Linked DNA regions of Homo sapiens: all the other regions are linked to region 1. The links come from fine-mapping of genetic effects on gene expression. A gene starts in region 1. Each other region holds a variant in brackets. All regions are shown on one strand. Distances are between the middles of the regions.

What was found.
Region 2: its variant is fine-mapped to the expression of MICU3 in whole blood (TOPMed, PIP 0.99).
Region 3: its variant is fine-mapped to the expression of MICU3 in whole blood (INTERVAL, PIP above 0.99).
Region 4: its variant is fine-mapped to the expression of MICU3 in whole blood (INTERVAL, PIP 0.99).
Region 5: its variant is fine-mapped to the expression of MICU3 in whole blood (TOPMed, PIP above 0.99).

The regions. Positions count from the first base shown.
Region 1 is chr8:17,022,959-17,029,197 of GRCh38, forward strand. It overlaps MICU3 (mitochondrial calcium uptake family member 3), which reads left to right and starts at 4,280. Exons shown (of 15, transcript NM_181723.3): 1 at 4,280-4,702. The coding sequence starts at 4,322. RefSeq lists a silencer at 4,258-4,667 and an enhancer at 4,818-4,907.
Region 2 is chr8:17,078,487-17,083,486 of GRCh38, forward strand. It overlaps MICU3 (mitochondrial calcium uptake family member 3), which reads left to right. Exons shown (of 15, transcript NM_181723.3): 5 at 3,207-3,254. Among named protein-coding and RNA genes, the nearest start is that of MICU3, 54 kb to the left of the region's middle. The variant T/C (reference allele first, on the strand shown) is at 2,675.
Region 3 is chr8:17,064,366-17,069,365 of GRCh38, forward strand. All of the region lies in intron 2 of MICU3 (mitochondrial calcium uptake family member 3), which reads left to right. Among named protein-coding and RNA genes, the nearest start is that of MICU3, 40 kb to the left of the region's middle. The variant CTA/C (reference allele first, on the strand shown) is at 2,152.
Region 4 is chr8:17,137,362-17,143,600 of GRCh38, forward strand. It overlaps a transcript of MICU3 not described here. Among named protein-coding and RNA genes, the nearest start is that of ZDHHC2, 16 kb to the right of the region's middle. The variant C/T (reference allele first, on the strand shown) is at 3,127.
Region 5 is chr8:17,047,576-17,052,575 of GRCh38, forward strand. All of the region lies in intron 1 of MICU3 (mitochondrial calcium uptake family member 3), which reads left to right. Among named protein-coding and RNA genes, the nearest start is that of MICU3, 23 kb to the left of the region's middle. The variant G/A (reference allele first, on the strand shown) is at 2,934.

The DNA of each region.
Region 1 (6,239 bases):
CTTTTTCCCTTTGGCCTCCCATCTGTGTTGATTGCATTTCCTCATTGATGTGCTGCTTGGTTTGTCAGCTTGTTTAGTGTCTGATGGGCCATTGTATTTCCTTGTCACCTAACTTGCCTTCCTATGTTGACCTCCACCTTCCCCCCTTTTCAAGACATTGCTTTTCATTTAGTAAATATAATTGAGGTCCTAATGTGTGCCAGGAACTGGGCTAGAAGATGCATACCCTGGCCTCATGTTGCTTAGAGTCAGCTTGGCTTTGCCTAATGGAAAAAGGGTGAGATACAGATCACAGTCTTTGGGAATGAGAGCTCATCAAAACAGAAAACAGACCCTCAGTGTCTTGTGTAACTTGGTTTCCATAGCCCTGGATGCTGAGGAATTGAGTTCTAGATTGCTGGTGGGTAGCACTTTGAAGAAAACAGAGCAAGAACATACCTTCCCCAACACTGTCTCCTATGTCAGTTTTGCCCTAAGGAAGACAGCATGGAAGGTGGAAGGCAATTTGAGAAAATGATGACAACTTTCCCAAGAGAGAAGAAGATGGTTGCAACCTTGCTCTCTGCTGGTAGACTTGAGTGGACCTGGGGATGGGGTGGTTCATGTGCCCTGATACAGATCTCAGATGTAACTGCTGCTCTTTTAACTAGTCAAGAATCTGGAGCTCAGAATGACCAAAATAAGGAATGCAGTATATTTTAATAGAAGTTTTGTTAAACAAGACATTCCTGCCTATTGCACTTATATTCCACTTTTTCAAACTTTTCAAAATCACTAACGTATTTGCAATTTTAAATGCAGTAGAAGGTTAAAATAATTAGATAAAGGAATGGATTTTTTTTTTTTTAAACATAGTCTTGCTCTCTCACCCAGGCTAGAGTGCAGTGGCTCAGTGATGGCTTACTGCAACCTCCTTTTCCCCGGTTCAAGCCATCCTCCTATTTCAGCCTCCCGAGTAGCTGGGACCATAAGCACGCACCACTATGCCTGGCTAATTTTTGTATTTTTTGTAGAGACGAAGTTTTGCCATATTGCCCAGGTTGGTCTCGAACTCCTGAGTGATCAACTCACCTTGGCCTCCCAAAGTGCTGGGATTACAGACGTTAGCCTGCGTGGTCCGGGGATGGAATTTTAAGTTGAAAGAATAAAACAATCTTAGGCCAATTGTAGATTTTCAGAAGAGAAATGATACATGAAAAATACCATGAAGTATCTTTCTATGGTTTACTGATACACTTGGAGCATTTTAGTTCATTAGAAAGATGGGTTCAGGGGTGATCATCTATTTCAACTCCACTATTTTAGAGACTGTGGCTTCCAAAGCATTATAATTAAGATGCAGCAAATCCAAGACTGGAGTCCAGATTTCTTCACTTCTAATTTATTACTTATTCACTGAGGTATATGCTTTCCTGGAAAACCCTTTTTGGCTTAATCCCCATTGTTTGAAACATTTTTATTGTTTCAGAACATTTCTTTTTATTTAGACCATAGTGAACGATAAGTGGATATTTCTTTCAAGGTGTGGGCTCTCACTGTGGAGTAGGGGCATTTTGGGGGTTATTCTTAATGCTCAGTAGAATTGACATAAAAGATAAGGGATACTGGGTTGACTCTATATTGATCCAACAATATTACCTGAAATTTCAAAAAAAAAAGGTTCCAAATTCCTAATATCATATTTTCTTAAAATTTTTCCTCTGGGAATTAAACTCAGAAAAATATCCACATAACAAGGGAATTTGGTTATTTTTGTGTAGCTATAGTTACAGAGCATCAAACGTGGGAAGAAAACAGTAACTATTCTTAAGGAAATTTCACCTTTAGAGGGAAAGTACTGTTGAAAATTATTAGTAAAGCTGTTTTTGCACGTGAGAGGTATTTTATCCAAAGTTCTCTGACTGATCTACAAACATAAACTTAGCCCTTCTCACAGCAGTACTTAGCTTCTAACCAGATAAATTGTTTGCAGGAGCTCTATCAAATTTAGAAAACTATAGAGAAACTACATAGAAATCTATACGTATGTGTCTGTATTTGTCATCTTAGATGAAGGATGTCATTTTCCTCATCTGTAATGTGATGTTATTGTATTACCTCCCTAATCTTCTTTAGAACTACTTAGCTTTTAACATGCAACTAGTAAAAATTGATCAGTTTGTCCAAGAATTCTGGCATTAGACTATAATAAGAATTTATGAGAAAATCAGGAAATCATGTTCAGTTCAAAGTAAACAGTGTCAGAACTATTATTATAATTTTTTTTTTTTGAGACAGAGTTTCGCTCTGTCACCCACGCTGGAGTGCAGCGGCACAGTCTCGGCTCACTGAAACCTCCACCTCCCGGGTTCAAACAGTTCTCCTGTCCCAGGCTCCTGAGTAGTTGGGACTACAGGCGCATGCCACCACACCTGGCTTTTTTTTTTTTAAGTTTTTTGTATTTTTAGTAGAGATGGGGTTTCACCGTGTTAGCCAGGATGGGCTCTATCTCCTGACCTCATGATCCACCCGCCTCGGCCTCCCAAAGTGCTGGGATTACAAGTGTGAGCCACCACGCCCGGCCAATATGATTATTATATTATATATAATATATATAATTATTACCCAGAAGATAATTTATTTGGGGAAACTACCATTTCACAGAATATAGAGAAAGCATAAATTGAGGAAAATTTGGTGATAAAGCAAGACGCTATCAGAGTCTTCCTTAGGCATTGACTCCATAAAACCCACAGGCTGAAACTGAAGAAAACTCAGAGACAGGTTTTAAAATACACAAAATTTGTTCATCTGCTACAGAAGATTTTTCTTCTTACCGCTTTTAGCAGCTTTAAGAAAGCAAAATGCCATTAACCTCTATTAAAATAAGAGGTAACAGGGTGTACCTGATGTGCTATTTACATGCAAGGTGTTAGGAATAGAAATTGCAGGACCTCCAGGAGTTCGAGGCCAGCCAGGCCAAGATGGTGAGACCCCCATCTCTACTAAAAACACAAAAATTAGCCAGGCACGGTGGCGGGTGCCTGTAATCCCAGCTACTCGGGAGGCTGAGGCAGGAGAATCGCTTGAACCAGGGAGACGGACGTTGCAGTGAGCCGAGAATGTGCCACTGCACTCTAGCCTGGGCAACAGAGCAAGACTCCGTCTCAAAAAAAGAAAAAAAAAAGGGAAGAAATTGTAGGACCTGAGCCAGAAAAAACTCATTTGGTCGTCTCTGAAAGCCTTTAGTCTTTACAAGAATTGCCAGAATCAACTGATGGTGTATTCTCTTGTCACTGCAGCCCAATTGAGACCACTGTATTTAGTTGTCTGTCCCCTTAGATCCACAATATTTTAGGGACTCCTGGCACCATTCCATAGTAGGAAGAAAAAGCTAACATAATTCAAGTTACCAAAACTGGGGTCTGGGGAGAGAAACTGATAGGAACTTCATCTACACTTTCTCATAAAAACTGATACTGATAACATAGCAAACAAAAAGTACAGTAAAAACAAAAAGATGACACAATACGCTTCTCATTTATTTTATATTTATACAAACAGCGCTTCCCTGAAAAATCAGGGTATCGTTCAAGATTTTATCTTTATTCACAGAAGTTTTAAAATTTTTAACTTTTATATGCACAAGACAGTTCTGATTTGTTGAATTAAGTGACCGCGGGTGTGCTAATGCTTCTAAAAAACAGCATTAGCCTTCTCCCATCAAAAGTCCGGAAGCTGCCCTTCAGTCGTCAAAGTGTTTGCCTTAATTTGCAATCGTTATGACTTGAGCCAAATGCTTATACCTCATTTGTGTCGTATATGTGAAGATACAATTGCAAATCGTTCACGACCTTGAGTCAAGACCTTGAGTTTCCTGAGGTCAGGAGACCGTTAGGGAATGTGAGTGTCCCAGACGGGCGCTGAGCCCAGCTCGGAGACCCACCCCGCCCGTAGCAGCGGCGCGGGCCCCAGAGAGCCCCGCACTCGGCCGCGCCTCAGTTACGCTGACTCGGCTGTGCCCGCAGTGTCGCGCTGTCGCGTAGCCAGGTGTCGCCGGGCTGGCGCGGTTATTTATGACTGCGTGGTTGGGCTGGGGGTTCGGGGCCGGGGAGCAGCCGGGATCCGCCGCCTCTTCCATGATCTTCCCGGGCCGAACCACGGGACCGCTACGCTGAAGGTGGCGTCGCGGGTCCCCGGGGCCGCGCGAGTGTAGGGGTCGCTCTCGGCCGGCCGCGAAGCTCGCGGCACCGACTTCTCGCGAGATTTCGGCGACCCCCCCCCCCGCCCCCGCCCCTCCGTTCTCTGCCCCCTCCCAGCTCTGGTGTGGGCGGCCTCCGCTATGGCTGCGCTGCGAAGGCTCTTGTGGCCGCCACCCCGGGTGTCTCCTCCACTCTGCGCTCACCAGCCCCTCCTTGGGCCGTGGGGGCGGCCTGCGGTGACCACCCTGGGCCTTCCTGGCCGGCCCTTCTCCTCCCGAGAGGATGAGGAGAGGGCTGTGGCGGAGGCGGCATGGAGGCGGCGGCGGCGCTGGGGGGAGCTGAGCGTGGCGGCGGCGGCCGGCGGGGGGCTGGTCGGCCTGGTATGCTACCAGCTGTACGGGGACCCCAGGGCCGGCTCGCCGGCGACCGGGCGACCCTCAAAGAGCGCGGCCACGGAGCCCGAGGACCCGCCCCGCGGCCGGGGGATGCTGCCCATCCCAGTGGCGGCTGCCAAGGAGACGGTGAGTGCGCGAGCGCGCGTCACACCTGCGCGGGGGATGTGACCTTCGTGCCGGGTACGCAGGACCCTGGAGGCTGTGGGGACGGTGCAAGCGCTGTGGCCGCGGGTGAGGAACTTCCCGTGAGCGAGGCTGACACCTAGGCCGGACAGCCTAGGATCCGGTCACCCACGTATTGGGAAGACCAGTGATGCTGTCCCTGATGCATCAGGACCTTAAAGGTGGCTGCAGCTACCAAGTATCAATCCAAACCCAAAACCAACACCCCTCCCCCTCTTACAAAAAAAGATTCAGAAATGAAGGCCATGACAGGCAGAAAGTGGACCGCTGTAGGTGTGGGAAAAAGGAACTCCTAGATTGCGCGGGGCGACAGCTAATGACCCAGGAGGTCTGTTGCATTAGAATGAGTTTCGAAGCAGCGGTCTGAGATCTCAAAAGCCACTACTTTAGCATATGAGAATTTATTAGTCCCAAGAAAGGAAATGCTAAACCTGCATGCTAACGCCCTTATCATACCCAGGGAATGTTGATGTTACCAGGTCTGAAAAGAAATAAAAAATTGTTCAAAAAGAGACATAAGTATTTCTCTCTTTTTCCTTCCCCCACTAAAGCCAGAATCCCGTTAGTAGGTAACGATAAAACACAAAATGGATAGGATAGCAAATGTAGGAGGCTGTGAATGACACAAACTCCTACAGAAGAAAGTCACGTGAAAATGTTCAACTGTCATTATGTAGTTAATAATACAAGGTAAAGATGTGTGAAAGGCAACAGTGAGTAAAGGAGCGTGATTTTTTTTGTCGCATCAGTATATTTAATAGTCATGTAAATGACTAGGAAAATTAAGGAGATTTTCCTTGCAAGGCTCGAAGAATGTGAACGGCGTAGATGAAAATAATTTAGAAAACAGAGAGCTATGCTGTTTCTAATGCAATTTTTATAGGCTTTGTTCTTAATACGCAGTGGTGATCTGATGTAAGTGCATCATTTCCTTTGGTGGAGGTTGTCAATGCAATTAGGTTACGGAATCTGCTTTATGGACTATCTAGCAGCAGATCACAAGCACATAACATAAAGTCCTTTTACACATGAATATTCAAAATACTAGGAAATACCCTCAAATCTCCACCCCCTCCCCCTTCACAAATACACATCCACTTTTGTGGCTTGGCAAGGAGCATAGCGTTTTTCATGATGGCAGAACTTTTAATTAACCATAGTTGGTCTAGGAACAGATCAGCAAGGTAGGGAATTCAAGTAGTATTTTCTTTTCTTTCTTAAAATTAATTTTACTTTTACAGTTGAGAGATGTTATCTTGCAGTTTTTAAAAAGACCACGTTCAGAAAGCTAGAACTTTGGCTCCACGACTTGCTACTTGTGTCATTATGGAGAAATTACTTGACCTGTCAATGCCTGTTTCCTCACCTGTGAAATGAGGCTAATAGTCTCCTGGGGTGTTATGAGAGTTAAATGAGTTAACACAGTATATTTAAAACAATGGTACTACTAAAGAACATTAAATAAATTTATTTTTTGGCT
Region 2 (5,000 bases), 55 kb after region 1:
ACATTTGTAGAAAAAATTTATTAATCTTTTTAATCTTAAAAAGTAATATTTCTTGGAAATGTATTTTTTGTATCCTCAAATACAGGAATATGCAAAATAAAAATGTTAAAGAAATTACATAAGCAGTTATATTTTCCCTTTTCATCAATTTTAACCAATATTGGCTTGAAAATAATGTACTTCAGCCTGAAGACAAATACTTTGAAGGAGTAGTTATAATTCATATATTTTATTTAAGTAGAATTAGAAAGTTCATATTGCTTCCACGTGGTTTACATAGAATCTGAAAGGAAGAGACACCATATCTTTTATTGTAGGTGTTTCATAAGTAAGATTTTTAAATCTTCAAGAAACCTAGGCCAAAGTGTCTTAAAAAAAATCTTAGAAATTTTTTTCCTAGATGTTGTCTTAAAGATTGCCATTCAGATCTTAGGGTGAGATAATAGGATGAGGAAAATTCAAAGCTCATAAGGATCAAGTAAGTATGGTGAATTTCAAACATTTTTCTTAATATACCTCATGGGAAAATACAAATTGGATCAAATATAATCTGAGAAAAATAATGCATAGAAGAAAGAACCTTTTTTAAGTTAAGGGGAGGGTTTAATCTGGAAGTCCTAGGTTTAGGCATATCCTAATCCTTCTCATGTTATACACATGTTTGCATTTTTTTCCCCAGGGGATAGAATCTATGCTGCACCACTATGACGGAAATACTCTGTTTCTATGCTGTCTCTTATGGTAGCTACTAGCCGCATATGGCTGTTGAGCACTTGAAATGTGTCTAGCGTAACTGAGGAACTTATTTTTAGTTGTATTTGATTTTAAGTATTTTAAATTTAAATAGCTACACCCTGTAGTACAATGCGTATCTGTATCATATTAATTAGATCATCAGGGTGATGCATGATCCCAGAAAGTTTTAGAATCATTAGGTTAGGTAAAATAGAGAAGTTAGAAGAGCCTTGCTTTTTTTAAATAGCGATTAAGTGGCAGAGAAATTTTAAGACTAAATCTTTAGAGCTATTGAAGACTAATTTTATTTTTATTTTTGTTTTATTTTATTTATTTATTGAGTCAGGGTCTCATTTTGTCACCCAGGCGGGAGTGCAGTGGTGCCATCATGGCTCATTGCAGCCTTGACCTCCTGGGCTTAAGCGATTCTTCCCCCTCATTTTTTGAGTTTTTGTAGAGACAAAGTCTCACTTTGTTGCCCAGGCTGGTTTTGAACTTCTGGACTCAAACGGTCCTCTTGCCTCGGCCTCCCAAAAGTGCTGAGATTATAGGTGTGAGCCACCATGCCTGGCTAAAGACTAATTTTAAAATTGTAAGTTTATCTACTTAAAATATTACCTCGAGAGAAAATGTTATGCATTTAAATAATAAAAAAATTGATATGCATTCATGAAAACATGTATTGTAGAGACTTAATTATAACAGCCAACTGCAATGTATTGTGTATAGGAATTAAACCATGTAATGCTTTTAAGGAACTTCCCTTAAAATTTGTTTTGATTGAATTTTCGAAAGAAACCTAGTTGGCATCTTTCTTATCCTCTGTTTCTAAAGATCACACCATTACTATATGCCTAGCTTTTTTTTTTGTATTTTTTGATCCTGCACGCCATAAATAAATTGAAGAGTTAGTTTTATAGTATTCTGTTTGTATAATTGGAAAGCATTAAAAATATACCGTTCATCTTCAGTAGTATTTTCTCTTTTCCTTGACCATTTTTATTAAATTATAATATATCATGGGTTTCACTTCATTTTTCTTCCCTGTGGTTTAAGCCACTTCAATCACCATGTGATCCTACAGACAAACGCCTACCATGATATTCATGGTCTGGACACTCACTATTAAGTAGTCCTTTCCTTGAGGGAAATCTTGAGTTAACTATCAAATAAAAGATGCATAACAGTTATTAAAGTTCTTTATACCAACCAACATCTCTTGTGTATTCTACCAGGTCAACTAGAACAACAGTTAGTGAGATGGGATTATGGAGACAGCATGCCCATTTCCCATCCCATTTCCTTTTCTCGCCCCTTCTTTTATGCTCTTCTTTCATTTTTTGAGGGATCCCTACAGACTCTTAAGTATTGTATCTTTATATACATTGACCATTCCAGAATCTTTCTCCCATAACATTCATGGCAATCAACCAGAACTATCTGTCTATAGGTCACAATATTCTAGTATAAACAAAAGAAGGGAATGAATGCTTTCAGGGCCTCCTGGCTAGTGCCCTTCATGTCTCTGACAAACTGCCTGACAGTGACTCCTCTTCTCTTTGTTCTGTAACAAAGAAGACAGCCTCAAAGAACATCAGATAAAATGGAGTTTTAAAGTTCACAATCTGGTTATTTTAAGGATTTTTATACCCTTTTACCAAGCGTCAGAACTATCTGATATCTAAATAAGTATTGTAGATACAGATTACTGATGTCAATCTTCTCAGTATCTACTTGGAAGGTCAGTTGAAGCACTAAATCTAGTTTTGGGTTTTGTATTCCAAAAGCAAGAATTCAAGTAACAGAATGCACTTTTTTATTTACTTCAAAAGCACTCCTTTTGAAATTTGCAAGTATGGAGTTACTGAGAACTCAGGATGCGATGTACAGAAAGTATAAGCCATTTAATTACAATAAAAACTCCTCAGGGTACATTTAA[T/C]AGAAGCATTGAAGATAATTTGAAAGCAGAAAAGTGGTAACTATAGAGCTTTACTCTTAAAATGCGAAACATCACATTTCTAAGTAACAGGGTCTAAGTGTTTTATCCAAGTGTTACTAAAAAGTAATTAAGCACTTTACAGTGTTAATTAACTATTTCCAACCTTTTTATTTTTACTTGTTTTTTCCTTTAAGCTCTGTTGGACTTGACAACTTTTTTATTTTGTGTTAAGAGTCGTACATTAGAAACTAGCAACAAGTTTAAAAGTTACTGCTATACGTATGCATTATAATTTTGCTTTTTTTGCCAATATATTTGAGAGCATAATGATTTTATATGGATATCTACAAAGGCATGTGGAACAATTAAAGTAAAATTAAATTTGTTGCTTCTTTTGTTATGATTTTATAATAATGATTGTCATTTAAAATAATATCTAGCATCTATTTTAAACTACAAGCTCATTATTTATAGCATTTATTGCTTCTAGAACAATATTTTATATATATAACTGATACTATTTTTCTTGTAGGTGTGATTTCTTACACAGAATATCTTTTTCTTTTATGTATTTTAACAAGTAAGTATACTTATTGCTTTTATTTCTGGATGCAGCTTTATTTTTTAAACGAATCTTGGAAAGCAGATCTTAGGTTCTCTTACTCTTGAAAATCAATATCCATGCTGTTCTGCAAAATTCATGTTTAATGCTACAGAAAAATGCTAAGCATAGCACTGTAAAGAGTCAAAAACATAAATGCTACAGCTTATGGTATAGTAATAAATGCTCATAAATTATAAATTTAATATTACGTGTCAATTCTTGTGGTTTTAATCTACCTCAGACTCCAAAGGTCATGACATGTAATAATTTATAAATTCCCTACTGTACTCATTTGAATCATATTTTCTGCCAGACTGATGTGAGAGAGAGTGTCTCTTAACTATTGAGTCTATCAGAATACCCATCATTCACATCTAAAACTTCTATTTTCTCCCTGTCAGGTGCAGCATTTCTTAGGAAATATATGAAGGGTTTACTATGTTTTCAGTTAAATTTCTTTGCATTTAATGGAGACAATCTGTTATAGTTTACTGTGTTCCAGCCACCTGGCCTTTCTATTCCTTGAATTGCCGCCTCAGGGATTTGTACCTTCTGCTTCCTGTGCCATCAGTACTTATCCTCAAGATCCCCGTGATAATAAACATCATTTAGGTTTCCTTTCAAATGTGAAAATTTAGCAAATCCTTACTTGGCCAGCCTCTCTAACATAGCTCCCTCTCTCTTTGTATCTCTTTACTGCGTTGCATATTCTTCATATCAGACTATTTGAAAGTATTATTGGTTTACATGTTCTTGTCTCCCCACACTTGAATGCAAGGTCCATTATGGCAAAGATTTTTTCTTTTTTGTTCATCTCTGTATCAAGAACAGTGTCTCGCACATGGTACCCTTCCAAAAAGTAGTTAGTGAATGAATGAAGAAAGGAATACATGAAAGAATACTGCTAGTGGAATTTCCAGTTGTGGAGATATGTGGAGATGCATGGAAACAAGAACATCAGTAAAACTCTGTCATTAGAAACAATCTAAAAATACCTTGTACTTCTTTGATTAAAAAATTCACACCACTGTGTTATTCTTAACTTTGTAACTTAGCGAGGAATGACGTTAACATTGAGTTCTGTTACAGTAAGTTTTGAGAACAAGGAATGTGTACATGCACTCACATATGTGTATTTCAAAAAATATTTTTTTCTCTTGGACTTGTCACCTTGCTCACTGACTAGACTGAGCCAATTTATCAAGACGGGAATTACAACAGAGAAAGAGTAATTTACACAGAGCTGGCTGTACAGGAGACTGGAGTTTTATTTTTACTCAAATGAATTTCCCGAGCATTCAGGGATCAGAGTTCTTAAGGATAATTTGGTGGGTAGTGGGTGGGTGAGTCAGGAGCTCTGGTTGGTCGGGTCAAAGATGAAATCATAGGGAGTTGAAGCTTTTCTCTTGAGCTGAGTCAGTTCCTGCGTGAGGACCACAAGACCAGATGAGCCAGTTTATCGCTCTGTGTAGTGACAGCTGATCCATCAAGTGTGGGGTCTGCAAAACATCTCAAGCATAGGTCTTAGGTTTTACAATAGTGATGTTATCCCCAGGAGCAATTTAGGGAGGGTCAGAATCTTGTAGCTCCAGCTGCATGACTCCTAAACCATAATTTCTAATCTTGTGGCTAATTTGTTAGTCCTACAAAGGCAATCTAGTCCCCAGGCAAGAAGGAGGTTTGTTACGGGAAAGAGCGCTTATCATCTTTCTTTTAAACTAT
Region 3 (5,000 bases), 41 kb after region 1:
TCAGTGTTACAGACTGATATTTCTTACAAACTCTTACTCACATCTCTTCTCTTTTCAGAAACTTTCAATTGCTCCATCTTTCTCAGCTTAACACCATCTTACTTTTGATACTCTTTATAAAAGACTCATATTCTGCCTCTTCATTCTTATATCAAACCTGAACAGAGTAGTTCAGAGGACTGGCTTTGAGGTTAGCCCTGGGCAAGAATTCTACCTGTATCTCTTCTGCGTTTGTCATAGCTCCTGCAGTGTAAATATATTAATAGTTTCATTGTCTCTCACCTTTTCATATGTTAGAATAATGGTTCTCAAAATTTTTGGAAGTATGTACATTCTTGCAAATCTCTTAATATCTAACTTAACAGAAGACAGCTGTATTCTCATGTGTGCTTTTTTATTTGATCTGTTATAATATGTTGTTTTCCATGAAATATATGAAGAAAATCTACCTCACAGACATGGACAGTAAAAAAAGGAGTATTTTAATTGCCTTTTTAGATTATTATAGGTACTCTCCTTTGATACTGTATCACAATTGGCTGGTGGTAGTTGCAGCTTCAAAAGTCTCTATAGATGGTGGTAAAAGAGTAATGAGAACCGAGGATTTCTGGCTGGCTTACCTGGATGGATGGCACTAGGGACCAGGTTTGAGGAGAAAAATCACAATTTCAATTTTGGTCATGTCTATTTGAGATACCTTGGATATATAAAAGGATACAGTGTATTTTTTTAAAAAATAATTCATTTCACTTCACTGAAAGATCACTCACTAAAAATCAGTATAACAAATAATCATTTGTTCGACCCATATCTACTTTAAACTGTCACACAAATACTTTAACTTAGACTAGAACAATTATAGCCATTTTTTCCTCCAGAGACAGCAATATGGCAAAAATGAACCTTAAAATAAATCCTCAATAATTTGACAAATTGGCTACTTGACATAGTAACTTTTAATGAATTTTTGATTCTTTGGATTATTTCCACTGGATATCAAGGAAGAGATTCAGGTATATATTTAGGATTCATCTTTGCATTATTGCTAATTCATAGAATGTGTATGAATGAAATTGCCTAGGGAAGCTGTATAGGATGAGAATATAGATAACCAAAGACTAGGCCTTGAGGAATTTCTGCTCTTTAAAAGATGAATGGACAAAAGGCTTTGAAAGGATGAGAAAAGGGGACATAGGAGTGGCCAGAGACATAGGAAGAAAATCATAAGGGTATGTAGTCATGGAAGCCGAGTAAAATAGCCAGAATTGCCAATTGAGTGCAGTGTTACTGAGAATTCAAGTTAGATAAGAACAGGAAAATGTCCACTAGATTTAAAAACATGAAGGTTATTGATGGTTTTTTAAAATGATGTTTCAGTGGAGTCATTAGGGCAATTGCAGGAGTGAGTAGCAGATGAAGAAATGAAGACGATGAGTGTAAAGGACTCTCTTACAATATTTGATTGCAAAAGAGAAAGGAACTGAAAGGTAGCTGTAATGGAATTTGAAGTAGACACTTTTGATTATGCAAGATTTTAAATTAAAAAAAAGATTTTAACAAGAAACTATGAGAGTAACGTTTAAAGAAATGTAAACTACATAAGCAAAAACATGAAATCAAGACAGTATATGGTATAGTCATAGTAGCCACTTTGGGAATATGTAGGGCCATATAGTGATGGGAAAGGTGAAAAATTAAGTAGAGTTCTTTTTTTTTTTATTTACGAATTTTAAGGCTGTGATAAGTGTTATATCCTTTTTATTTAATCCATTTGGTACAATGTAGATTCTTTATTAGTGAGTTAGTATAGATTTAATACTAATTTGCTAATAAATATAGAGACCATGTTGTACCAAATCAATTAAATAAAAATGTATGGAATATTTATATGTCTGCTTCTGTATTAAGGTTCTTTTCTGTGTGCTAAGGGGGATACAAAGTCTGTGCACTCAGGAAACTTACGATATTATAAGACGACGTAAGATACAGAACCATCTCCAAGGTAGAATATGGTTACCTGGCACATGATAGGTACACAATAAATATTTCTTGAAGGAAGGAATTTGTTAGATGCTAAATGGTATTTTATATCAAATTCTATAATTTTTTCAAACATATTTGAAAGCTATTCTTTAAGTGATTGTTAATAAT[CTA/C]TATATATATATATATATATATAGATTTTTTTTTTTTTTTTTGAGGCAGGGTCTTGCCCTGTCCCCCGGGCTGGAGTTCAGTGACGTGATCACTACTCACTACAACCTCAACCTCCGAGGCTCAAGTGATCCTCCCACCTCAGCCTCCCAAGTAGCTGGGACTACAGGCACATGCCACCATGCCACCAGCTAATTTTTTAAATTTTTTTGTAGAGAGAGGGTTTTGCTATGTTTCCCAGGCTTGGCTTGAACTCCTGGGCTCGAGCAGTCCACCTGCCTCAGCCTCCCAAAGTGCTGGGATTACAGGCGTGAGCTACTGTGCCTGGCCACAGTTTCATATTTTGAAAAATTTTACTTCATTATTTTCTAGAATTTTTTTCTTCAGAATACATTCACTGGAAGCACACTGTTCGATTTTGCTTTTTGGAAATAACTTTTGTGGTGATTCTTCTCATAGATATTTTAAAACCATAACTTAAGAGTAAAAAACTGGTTTCTATTATAGAAAAGTTATACAGGATATTTTACAACCACAACTTCAGTTAATTTCTAACCAGCACTTTTCAAACATAATTAGGAACAATCACAAAAGATCAAGATATTCATAAATCCTGTTTTGAAAGTTGGGGTTTTAGAAAAGGAAAAGAATAGAACAATGTTTCATGTACTGAGTATTAAATCAGATATGTTAAAACTGTAGCGTAATGAAATTTGACTTGTGTTTAAACCTTGGCATTTACTGGCTTTGAAAACTTGGTTATTTAATCTTCTGTTTCCTCATTTATAAAAATAACAGCCTCATGAAGTTTTTCTTGAAGATCGAATGAATTATGGTTAGTATAGTACCTGGCACACAGTAAACATTTAATATTGGTATGTCATCATCATCGTCATCAGAATTCATAGCCATGATTTTTTTTTTTTTTCCCCAAGAGGAGACTCGCTCTGTCAACTAGGCTGGACCGCAATGGGGTGATCTCAGCTCACTGCAACCTCCGCTTCCTGGGTTCAAGTGATTCTCCTGCCTCAGCCTCCTGAATAGCTGGGATTACGGGCAGCTGCTGTCATGCCCAGCTAATTTTTGTATTTTTGCAGAGCTGGAGTTTCACCATGGTTTAACCATATTGGCCAGGCTGGTCTCAAACTCCTGACCTCAGGTGATCCTCCTGCCTCGGCCTCCAAAGGGGTGCAATTACAGGCGTAAGCCACCATGCCCAGCCCATAGCTGTGATAATTTTTAAGCAAATATTTACACGGCACACCATTTTTTTCGCTGTTTAAAATCATAGCCATTATTTTTGAAAGTTTTTGATATCATTTTATGATGACATTCAACAGGGAAAAAATGGTATGCTGTGTAAATATTTGCTTAAAAATTATAGATCAAATAAATGTTGAGATATCTGTTGATTATGATTTTGCATTATAATCTTATTTTGCATACTTAAATAGAACCTAAATGGTGACTTTCTTTTCTAGAACTAAAATCAGTAATTATTTTCCAACATAGCATCAAGAATTATTTTAATTTAGATTTTTAAAAATATATTAAATTTTTCAGACATACAAAAACGTATTAAAAATATAATGAACATCAACCTACAGCTTAAGAAATAATATTTCCACTAGAATTGAAGTCCTTCTTCACCTAAGTTATATTTATATGTGCAGTAACTTCATATGAAATAAGGAATTCAGAAAATCCTTTGAAGAGCAATCTTAATGGCTCTTTAGTCTTTATTTAAAAAGATAATAGTATTGAACATGGTGACATTTCCGACAGAATGAATATGTCTTTTGTGAATAATTTACCATGGAAATCTCATAAACCCTGCAAAACTCAAGAGTACCTCTAACTTCCTCTTCCGATAAATACCTTCTGAGCATTGCATAAGAGCACGTGCATGTACTTTTCTACCATTTATTTTTCTTCTTTCCTTACTGCTATATTTTAAGAGCAACAGAATAATAAATACTATTTGTATTGTTCTGTTCATTGTTAAAAGGGAAGTGTCTTTGCACCAGTGTCATAGTTAAGTTTACATGCTAAATTCTAATTTGTAGACCTGTGATTTGAATCACTTGATTACACATTTGTATCAACTATCTTGGATAGATGAAGGATGTTGTTGCTACATAAAGAAGAAATCTATCCTTAGAAACATATTTCTTCTCTTTTGATTTTAAATTGAGTTGTTTTGTTGCCTAATAAAGAAAAAACTACACAGCAAAAATTGCTTTTTTTGTAATTTTGAATTTGATATATTGTTAATTATACAGAAATAGCCCCATTGCCAGGTAGAAGAAGATGTTGGTTGGCATTATTGTAATGTAGCTGAAATAATTAATATTAACCAGTTTCCTAATACAGCTGTATTACAGGGCTTAATCAAATGTAAACCTGGTGCTAATTCTTAGGCAGGCATTAAATATTTACAGTGTTCAAATGTGAGCAAAGGAAATAGCAATACTGACTATACATTTGTCCCAACATTTTAAGTTTTACAGTGTTTGAGATCTTTGGGGGTGTGAGGAGGAATCACAAAAAGAAAGTGATCCCTGACATTTTATTCAGCTGTAACACTCTTACTCCAGTGATGCTTCTTGAATAGTTGTAGGGAAGAGTAATGAAACAGGACAAGTTTCCCCATCACTTTGCCTAGCCTCCCTTTCCTTTCTTTTTTTCTTTCCCCAATCCTTCTTCATCCTAGAGAGACCTGACCTGTGAATTACGTCATGGAACACTAGTATAGCAAAGATCACAAGTAATACCTTAAAATTATAGTTTATCTATGTTAATGTTATTTTATATTCTAGTTTGAATATTTTATAAGTATCATTATTTGT
Region 4 (6,239 bases), 110 kb after region 1:
TGAGAACATCATATTAATAATTTTTTTAAATTTTATTTACTTAGAATGATATTAAATAGCACATAAAAACACTACGACAAGTTGAGAGAGACAGACCACGGAAGGAAGAAAAAAGTTTTATATTTAATACCTTAAACCACACTATTTCCTGCTTTTTTTTAAAAAAAAAAAAAAAAAGGGGGCCCTGTATTTTCATTTCACACTGGGCTTCAAAAACTATGTAGCCCATCTTTTCTTGGGATATGGAAATTTGGGCCAGTATCCAAGTGTGTAAGTATGTCTAAGTTTGGATAAATACAGGATGGTAAGAAACAGACAAGGGAAAGAGTAATATTTTCTTTTCCTTTTTTTTTTTTTTTTTTTTTTTTTTTTTTGAGACAGAGTCTCACTCTGTCGCCAGGCTGGAATGCAGTGGCACAATCTCGGCTCACTGCAACCTCCGATTCCCAGATTCAAGCAGTTCTCCTGCCTCAGCCTCCTGAGTAGCTGGGACTACAGGTGCGCACCACCACGCCCAGCTAAATTTTGTATTTTTCGTAGAGACAGGGTTTCACCATATTGGCCGGGATGGTCTTGATCTCTTGACTTTGTGATCCGCCTGCCTCAGCCTTCCAAAGTGCTGGGATTACAGGCATGAACCACCATGCCCAGCCAAGAGTAATATTTTCTATTACATGGAAGTGGATTTTGATTTTCTCAGAATTATAATGGAGGAAGGAATATTAAGATGGTAAAAATGCTCATGATACCAAAGATGTCACCCACATAGTGATAAACTCTTAAGAGAATTTGATGTTTAAAGAGTTATGATGTCTGATCTGATTTCTTGAGTTTCATCAATAAGAATGAGGGACTCAACAACCAAATTCCAAAGAGGTTTGCATTAAAAAGGGTGTAACTCCAGCAGAATGTAAATGTATGTAAAATAGATAATAGCAAGATGTTATAATGTTTTTATTTTGAATGAGGCAGAAGCTGTTTCGGAAAAAAAGAAATAGAGGTTTAAAGAACACAGAACATACCTTCAACCGTCATGGCAGGGTGGTGGACCACGAGGAAATGACTGTGACAAGTCAGCTAATCTTGGAACAAATTAGGGAAGGAAATGATGAACAACAGCTGCAAAGAAAAAAATGCAAGAATTTGCAAATGATGTCCACTTTGTCTTTAATTTACCCAATGCTGGAAAGAATACTGGTCACCTCACTTTTCGGTAATATACGCACCATCGTCTTCAGACACAGAAGAATGAGAAATAATTAAAAGTCACTGAGACGGCTCTCACCTCCTGTACTTCATTATCACACAATGTCTTGCTAGAGAGGCATTTTCATTCCAGATGAATATGTGGTTGATTAGCGCTTTTCCAAAAGCAAATTGTCTGAGGTTCTCTGTACTGCATTTCCTGGTACCAATTCCTCATTAAGGTGATTCATGAATTTTTTTTCAATTAGGTTCGTATGTCTTTTTAAAAATCAATTTGGTGTCTACCTTTCAACTAAATGAATGAGCCAGTGTATCATTCAGACAGGTGTGGACTTGCATAACTATTAAGTTAAATGAGCCTTTCATAGAATTGAGAAAATGGGCAAGGATTAAAAGTGGAATCTGAACAGGAATCACTATTTCAAAAAGAACAAATTAGAAAATATGAATAAACAGGTGAACTACATGAGCCCTTCCATTCAGAATAGCATGGCGGGTAAGCATGGGCTCTGGAGTCAGACTTCTCTGAGTTCCAATCTTGGCTCTTTTGCTAACTTCCTTTGTAATTAAACAAGGTCGTAACACTTTCCACCTCTCAGCTTTTTCATGTGTGAGATGAGATCATGATAGCAGCTGTGTCCTTGGGTGGTGGTGAGAATTAAATGGGAAATCGCCTTTAAAGCACTGAACTGAGCACACAGTAAACATTTAATAAACGTTAGTTCCTATTATTCCTAAAATAATACTATTCATTTAGAATCACTTATTAGTAATCAATGCTAACTTGACCTTAACGATTAAAATAAAGATAAAAATTCATGGGCTATCGAAACCTATAATGTGGTACTCATTATTCAAGTGGAATGAAAACGCTGAAAAGAAAATGTTTTTTCAAAATTTCATCTGGCAAATATTGCCAAATAGTTTAAAGCAACCCTACATGTTTTTTCCATACCTCATTATCCTGTGCCATGAGGGGGAAGAAAGGATGTATTTTAATTGTTGTGACCACCTTCATCTATTGAAGTCTTGATTTTTCAGGCACCTCCTTCGTTTTATTAAATATTTTATGCTGTGCATGTGAAATATGTAGTCCATGTACCCAGGGATATTTCTGTCTACTAGTTTTCCTTGTTCCTAAAAACAGAAATGAGGAATGCCTACGGCTAAAAAGAAAAAAAAAACTGTCTTCCTGTCAGCAGCTCCTTCTGCTGATATGTCACCGATGCCAAATTATATATTCACGTAATTTGCATTTTCCCACTCTTAGTTTTTTTTTTAAATCATTAGGTCAAAAGCTAAAATACATTCCTTTTTATAGCAGAAAATTGCTCCTGTTTGTTCAAAGCCAATTTGAAAGATTTGATCATCAGAAAAACATATATGTGTCTATATATAATTTCTAAATTTGGCTTCAAACCCCTACTTATTTAGTAGTGCCACACAATAGCTTTTTTTAATGTAAGATTTTCCTTTAAGAAATGGGAATAAAGCTCTAGGTATTTATTTTTTGAAAAGTGCTGTTTAATCCTGTGCTTAGCATAGTGCCTGGTATTTGATAGATAACAAATATATATTTGTTGAAAAATAAGTGAATGAATGAATGAATAAGCAAAGTAAGGCATATCAAGCCTGAAAGGTAGATATAGTCTGCTTGACTTTTCCTTTACTGCTTGACACATTTCCTAACTTTTTCTACCTCCTAACATTAAAACAAAAATACAATGACATACTTGAGAGTTTTCTAGTAAGATGCATGTCCCAGCAACTAAAAAGCAACTCCAGCCGGGTTCAGTGGCTCACGCCTGTAATCCCAGCACTTTGGGAGGCCAAGGCGGGTGGATCACAAGGTCAGGAGATCAAGACCATCCTGGCTAACACGGTGAAACCCTGTCTCCATTAAAAATACAAAAAATTAGC[C/T]GGGTGTGGTGGCACGCGCCTGTAGTCCCAGCTACTCAGGAGGCTGAGGCAGGAGAATCGCTTGAACCCACGAAGTGTAGGTTGCAGTGGGCCGAGATCACGCCACTGCACTCCAGCCTGGGCGACAGAACAGGACTCTGTCTCAAAAACAACAATAAAAAAAGCATCTCCATGAGATGGATTTTTTTCTCGGGTACTAAATGCTGATAGTAGCTAACATACAGTCATCACATATATTATGCATATAAAATGCTTAGCATATATATACATATATAATGCCAGATACTATGCTGAGCATTTTATGCACATACTGTTATTAATATCCTCAACATTCCTATGAGAGAGTAGATAATATATGCCCCAGCTCATATCTGAGGCATAAAGAAGTTAAGTAATTTCCCTAGGGTTATATAGCAATAAGGATAAAACCAAGACTCAGACCCAGGTTGTCTAATTCCTGAGCCAAGCTCTTAACCACCATGATGAATTCCTTACTGTGATGCAAGAGTACTGGGAAGTAAACAGAGGTGACTTCTAAGCCATGGAAGAGGTGCCAGTGAGACTATGGTTTGGTGGGAAATTTAGGACTCTTGAGCAGTGCTGTGGAGCTGGAGCAGAATGGGCACGAGGTATCGGGAAAAGACGGAATATTAAAGCGAAGAACTGGATTGGGGGAAGGCGTATTATTGGCCTATATCTAGGGTCATATAATTTATCATCCAAACCGGGACACTTTTGAAAGTGAAAAGGGACTCTATTCAGAATTACATCAAGACAGTGCTCCAAACTGGGACTATCCAAGCTAAACTAGGACATGTAGTCATCTTTCCCATGTCCCTCTCTTGCTAACTTATTTTTTCCTTTCTTCCTCTCTTATTCTCTTCTCCCTTTTCTCTCCCTCTTCGTCCTCCCTATGTCCCTCACTGGCTCTTTACATGTACCTTAAATGGCAGTAATTTGTTGCGTTTAACTGGAGTTGGGATGCTCATTAAGTGCCTCATGTTCGAACCGAGTTAAACAAATGTTCCAAAACAATAGTTCCGTTGTTGCTGTATTATTTATCTATTGCGGCATTGCAAATTACCCCAAATTGCAGCTGCCTAAGAAAACAAACATTATTTCCCACAGTTTCTGAGTCAGTCAGGAGCAGCTTTGCTGGGTGAGTCTAACTCAAGGTCTCTCCTGAGGGTGCAGTCAAGCTGTTGGCTCGCACTACAGGCATCAGAAGGAATGACTGCAGCTGGAGGACTGACTTCCAGAACACTCACTCACATGGCGACCCCCATCCTCTGCTACATGGCCCTCTCGATGGGGCTGCTCATGACAACAGGGCAGCTAACTTCTCACGGCTCAAGTGATGTGAGGCTGAGGAGGAAGCCGTGGTGTCTTTTTTTGAACCAGTCTTTGAAATTTCCCACTATTAATTCTGCTTTATTTTATTCATTAGAAGTGAGTCACTAAGTGCTATGGTCTGAATGTTTGTGTTCTGCCAAAATTCATATGTGGGAACCCTAACCCCTAGGTGATGGCAGCGTTTAGGGGTGGAGCCTGTGTTAGTCCATTTTCACGCTGCTGATAAAGACATACATAAGATGGATAATTTATAGAGAAAAAGAGATTTAATGGACTCACAGTTCCACGTGGCTGGAGAGGCCTCACAATCATAGCAGAAGGCAAAAGGCACATCTTACATGATAGCAGGCAAAGAGAGAGTGAGAGCCAAGTGAAAGGGGTTTCCCCTTATAAAGTCATCAGATCTCGTGGGACTTATTCATGACCACAAGAACAGTATGGGGAAACCGTCCCCATGATTCAATTATCTCCCACTGGGCCCCTCCCACAACACGTGGGAATTATGGGAGCTATAATTCAAGATGAGATTTGGGTGGGGACACAGCTGAACCATATCAGAGCCTTGGGAAGTGATTAGGTCCTGAGGATGAAGCCCTCATGAAAGAAATTAGCACCCTTATAAAAGAGGCCCCAGCAAGCGCGTTGGCCACTTCTACTATGTAAGAGTACAGAGAAAAATCATCTTTGAGGGAACCAGAAAGCTGGCCTTCACCAGACATCAAATCTGCCAGTGGCTTCATCCTAGACTTCCCAGCCTCCAGAACTGTGAGAAAGAAATTTCTGTTGTTTAGAAGCTACCTAGTTTATGATACTTTATTATAGCAGCCAGAATGGACTAAGACACTAAGTCCACTCAGCACTCAAGGGTAGGGGATGAGCCTTCACTTCTTGAAAGGCGAAGTATCAAAGAATTTGTGCACATATTTAAAATCATCACAGCTACATAGTTTTTCAAACTGACTCTTTGATTTAATTTTACTTCTGGGGCCCTGTCCAAAGAAAACAACTAAATAGAAGGGGAATGTTAGATGAGCCAAGTTATTTATGGTATGTTATGCCAGTGAAAAATTAGAAAACACCTACATAATTAACAATAAAGGAATGGTTTAATGAATTATAGTACTTCTACAGAATAGAATACTGTGCAAATATTTAAAATTATTCTAGACTGGGCATGGTAGTAATCCCAGCACTTTGGGAGGCTGAGGCAGGAGGATCACTTGAGCCCAGGAGTTGGAGGCTGCAGTGAGCTATGATCATGCCACTGCACTGCAGCCTGAATAACAGAGCAAGATCCTGTCTCAAAAAACTTTTTTTTTAATTTAATAAAATAATTCTGAAGCCTGTATAGCAGCATGAAAAAAATGTTTGTAATGAAATATTTATGAGAACACAAAATTGTATGTAGGCTATCATTTCAACTCTAAAAAGAAAACACACAAAAAGACCAGATGGAAACAAGCTAAAATAACAATGGTTGTGCTAATTGGTAAAATCATGGGAAGTTTTTATCTTTCTCTGTTTTCAGAGTTTCTGCTCTATAACTGTGATGTATTGTTCTGCTATATATAATTTTGTTATTTTTTATTTTAAAAGAGATAATTAAAGATAATATTGACTTTCTAAATAAGGAATTCAGTAGGCTTTTTTTTTTTTTTTTTTTTTTTGAGACAGAGTCTCGCTCTGACTCCAGGCTGGAGTACAGTAGTGTGATCTCGGCTCACTGCAGCCTCCGCCTCCTGGGTTCAAGTGATTCTCCT
Region 5 (5,000 bases), 24 kb after region 1:
GAGACAGGACAGACTTCCTACAAAGGGACTGCAGTTGACCTGATTATAGACGAATCCATCGCAACAGACAGAAGCCAGAGGACAGTGGGCTATATCTTCAAAAGTGAGAGAAAATAACTGCCACTTAGATTTCTATACCTCGGTAAGTTATTTAGGAATGAGAACAAAATAAATTTATTTTCATAAGAGACTGAGAGTTTACCAGTATCAGATCATCATTGAAAGAACCACTGAAGAGTGCATATCAGGAAGAAATGAAATGAATTAACATAAAAAGGGGTGAAATTCAAGAAGCAATGGAGAACAAAGAAATTAGTAAAAATGAGAGCAGTTCTTAACCATTGATTGTATACAACAACAATTATTATTATTTTAAAAGAAGTTACAATGAAGTGGATTTCAAATAGTGAACAACTGATACGCAAGATAGTGGGCCATGACGAGTTAAAGTGTTTCATGGGGGAAACCAAGATCCCTTCTTCATGTCATAATTATCCAGGTGGATTAGAATCCTACATGTGATAAGTAAAACTTTGAGATATTTAGAGGAATATATATGTTTCGATGTTCGAAACAAGATAAAAAGCAAAACCTAGAATGGAAAATATTACTACATTTCACTTCATTTAAAATATTTAATAAAATAAAAAGAAGTCCTGGAATGGAAAAAGATATTTATAGTACATAGCCCTCACAAGGACTACATATCCTAAATGTGTAGATCTACAAATTAATAAGAAAAAGAAAACACGATAGAAAAATGAAATAGAAATTCACTGGCCTTAAAGAAGGCAAAGGAGTAGCAAAATCACATCTTACATGGAGGCAGGAAAGAGAGCATGTGCGGGGGAACGCCCCTTTATATAAAACCATCAGATCTGGTGTGACTTATTCACTATCACAAGAACAGTGTGGGAAAGACCCACCCCCATGATTCAGTTACCTCCCCTTGGGTCCCTCTCATGACACATGGGAATTATGGGAGCTACAATTCAAGATGAGATTTTGAATTGAATCTTCTTCACAACTACCACTTCTTTATTTCATTTTATTTTATTGAGACAGGGATTCACTCTGTCACCCAGGCTGGAGTATGGTGGTGTGATCACCCCTCACTGCAGCCCCAACCTCCTGGGCTCAAGATATCCTCTTGCCTCCGCTTCCTGAGTAGTTGGGACTACCTCATACATCACCACACCCAGCTGATACATTTTTAAAAAAATTGTAGAGACAGGTTGCCACTGTGTTGCCCAGGCTGGTCTCAAACTGCTGGGCTCAAGTGGTCCTCCCACCCCAGCCTCCCAGAGTGCTGAGATTTTCGACGTGAGCAAGGCACCCAACCTGTCTTTGAACCTGGCCTGGGTGCATATACTCTGTAATATGCTGGGAATTTATGAGCTTATTATGGATCCATGCAAATAAACAGTACACAGTTCTGTATTTCGGGGATGGATAACTTACTCCATTTCTTTGAACGTCAGCCGTTTTCTCTTCTTTCATAAGTAACTGAATATTTCAGACTGGGAACATTTCAGACTTTTCTCTTCGATGATGAGACTAAATTTCTAAACAATACTCTTCAAGTAAAAATTTTAACCCATTTATGCCTAGTGTTCCATTGTATCCTGGGACACTGAGCCAGGAAGACCGAGGGAAGGGTGGTAGAGCATGAGGCAGTGAAACCCACAAGAAAAAGCCAGACAGTAGGAATAGTTTTATCTCCTTGGACATATTTGGAGAATATCTAACTTATAGTGCCACAGAGGTTCTAGATATTTATAAACTTTGTGCCTGGAGTTGAGTAGCCAAACACTATTTCTGGACCTAGCTAGTTAATAGTACATCAAGAGGTAGAGTCTCTTGATTCTGTGGGCCAAGGGAAAAGGCAGTATTTGCATGTAGTTTTCATTTAATCTTTACAGTTTGTGGGCTTAGTATTTATTTGTCCATTTTATAGTTGAAAATGCTAAAGTTTGCAGAAAGTTAAGTTATTTTTCCCAAGGTAACCTAACTAGGAAGGGATGAAGCTGGCATTTGAACGTAGGCCGGAAGGATTGCAAAACCCATATACTTTCATTCCAATATAACAAGTTGTGTAATGTGAAAAAACACTGGGTTGTGTGTTGTAATACTGAAGTTCTGGTCCCAGACCCATTTGCTGCCTGTGTGACCCTGTTGAAGGCCCCTATAGATTAAGTTAACTCTTTTGTACAGTTGCACTAATAATATATGTCTGCTTGCCTTTTAAAAAATAATACTCCATTCCAAAATTTATCTACATCTTTACATACATATATTCCTATAAGACATGAACTTTTGTTTTTTTACTCATTTTTCTACAACCTGTTTTTTTCACCCTAGTGTGTATCTTGTGACTGTTTCTATGGTAGCACCTCTAGATCTACCATACCCCTTTCCATAGTCACAAACTATTCCATGGGTGTGCCATAATTTATTTAACCATTGTCCTGCTGCTGGAAATTTTGATTGTTTCTATTTTTTCACTATTGGAAACATGCTGCAGTGACTATCCAGGGATCTTAAGTACATGCAAATATTGAATTGTCGGATCTATAGCTATTAAATTTTAATAGAAACTTAAAATTATCTTTCAGAATGGTACGCTAAGATTTACTTCTACATGTAGTAAGTAATGAGCAGTTTTCTTACAAGTGCTGTATCCCTGAACAATATACATATATTTTTGTGAATTTTAAAAATAATATGTCCTTCTATAATGTATATATTTTATTTAATATTATATTTAGGAAATTTATACATATTGACACATGTACTTCTAGTTAATTTACTTTCACTACTGTAAAATATACCACTTTATTAATATTTCATTAAACTGATATAATTTCCATTTTTATTGATATTTTTGTGAAGATTGATAAATGGTCAGTTTATATAGTCCCTGTTTATTAAAA[G/A]CAAAATTAACAAGCACCTTATTCTGTTACTCAGATCCTTTTTCTTATTTGGCTTCTCTATTTGATCTGTCCATTTCTAGTTGAGATCTATTCAAGTCTCAGCCATGATTGTGAACTGATAAATTTTCATTGCTATTCTCTAACAGTTTTTCCATTATGTAATTTTAAGCTGTTTAGTTCATGTGTGTAATATCTTTTTGGTGAGTTTTTCTTTGTCCCATTTAATGCTTTTGACTCTTAATTCCATGTATTTTTTAACATTCTGGGTAATGTTTAACAGTGACTCTTGTAGGGGACATTTTTATGGCTTTTTAAAAAACGCAGTATAAGAGTTGCTCTTTTTCAATGGGGGGGTTTAAACCTATCCTATTTATTGTGATTGAGAACATGTTTGCATTTATTTTTGCTGTGTTATTATGAGCATGTGTTACCACTTTATCACCTGGCATTAGATTGGTCCAGTTTCTTATTATTTCTCTCCCTCGAGTAGTTTGAAAGTCATGCATCCTGTTTCTGGTCTTCAATTGGTTACACATAACATTTAAATGGTTTTTTATATACATCTGAAACTTGAGGAAAAATCAGTATCAGAAAATTTTTTATTCCAAAAAAGTTCATTGAACATGTTTTATTACATGGCCCTCCCCACCTTATATTTTTCTGAAGTCAGCTACAGTATTAGTACCACATAGGTATTGGTTTTTTAATATTATGTTTTAATTTTTTTATATTTTAATTTTTAAAGCAATCACCATTTAACAATTATAGTAAGCTTTACACCCACATTCACTTATTCATTTATTCAGCAAATAGTTGAGAGCCTGCTAGAAGCCAAAAACTCTTCTAGGCACTGGGGAAACTAAAGTGTACCAAGTAAACAATTCCTGCGTTCATGGAATTTATATTGTGGAATGCAGGAGACAAATTTTGTATTTCTCAGCATATTTATAATATTTGAAGGCTAGATGAGATCATCAAGTGGGTAATTGTAGATTTAAAAGAGGAAAGGAGGTCCAAGGATTGGCCCTAGGGCAGTGTAGTTGGGAAGTACCAGCAAAAATACCAAACAGGAATACCCAGAGGGATAGGAGGAAAAGCAAGACAGTGAAATCTTACAAACAGAAAATAAATGATTTCAAGGGGAAATGAGCCACCAACTGTGTCAAATGCTATAAGAGGAAAACTGAGAAGTGACCTTTGGATTTAGCAACAAGGAGGTCATTGATGACCTTGACAAGCAGTTTTGGTGGCATGGTAGAGAAGAGAGCCTTGCTGGAGTAAGATCAAAAGAGAATGAGAGGAAATGTAAACAACACTCTCCAGTAGCCTTGCTGTAAAGGGAAGGAGAAAAATGGCAGGGAGGAGAGCAAAGGTAGCTAAATAGAGAGGAGGGACAGGGCACTTTCTAAGGTGGGAGGAATAGCACCGTGCGTTATGCTGAAGGAGAAGTATACAGTGGAAGAGGAAAAAATAGGTTGGCAGGGCCAGGGCAGTATTGCTGAACCAAAGTCTGAATAGGCAGGAAAAGAGGAGGTCTACATGCTGAACCACTATGCTATACTGCCTCTAGAGAAAAAGACTTTCATTTATGTCATCTTTCAATCAAATAATGAGATGATGTATGTGAAAGTACTTTATAAACTTGTAAAGAACCCTATAATGTAAGCTACTATAATAATACAAGTAGAGACTTAAATTTTTTTTTGTTTTTTATCATGATACATAATATTTGTATGTATTTATGGGGTGTGTATGATATTTTGATACATGCATACAGTATGTAATGATCAAATCAAGGTATTTAGGTTATCCATCCCCTTGAACATTTATCATTTCTTTGTGTCAAGAACATTTCAAATCTTCTCTTCTAGCTATTTTGAAATATTTGAATTTTATTATTAATTACAGTCACCCTACTGTGCTATTGAACTCTAGAATTTAATTTCTTCTATCTTACTGTGTTTGTACTCATTAACCAATCTGTCTTCATTTCCCCAACCCCCACTCACCCTTCCCATAGTCTGGTAACTATCGTTGTACAATTAGAGGCCTTAAAAATTATAAATG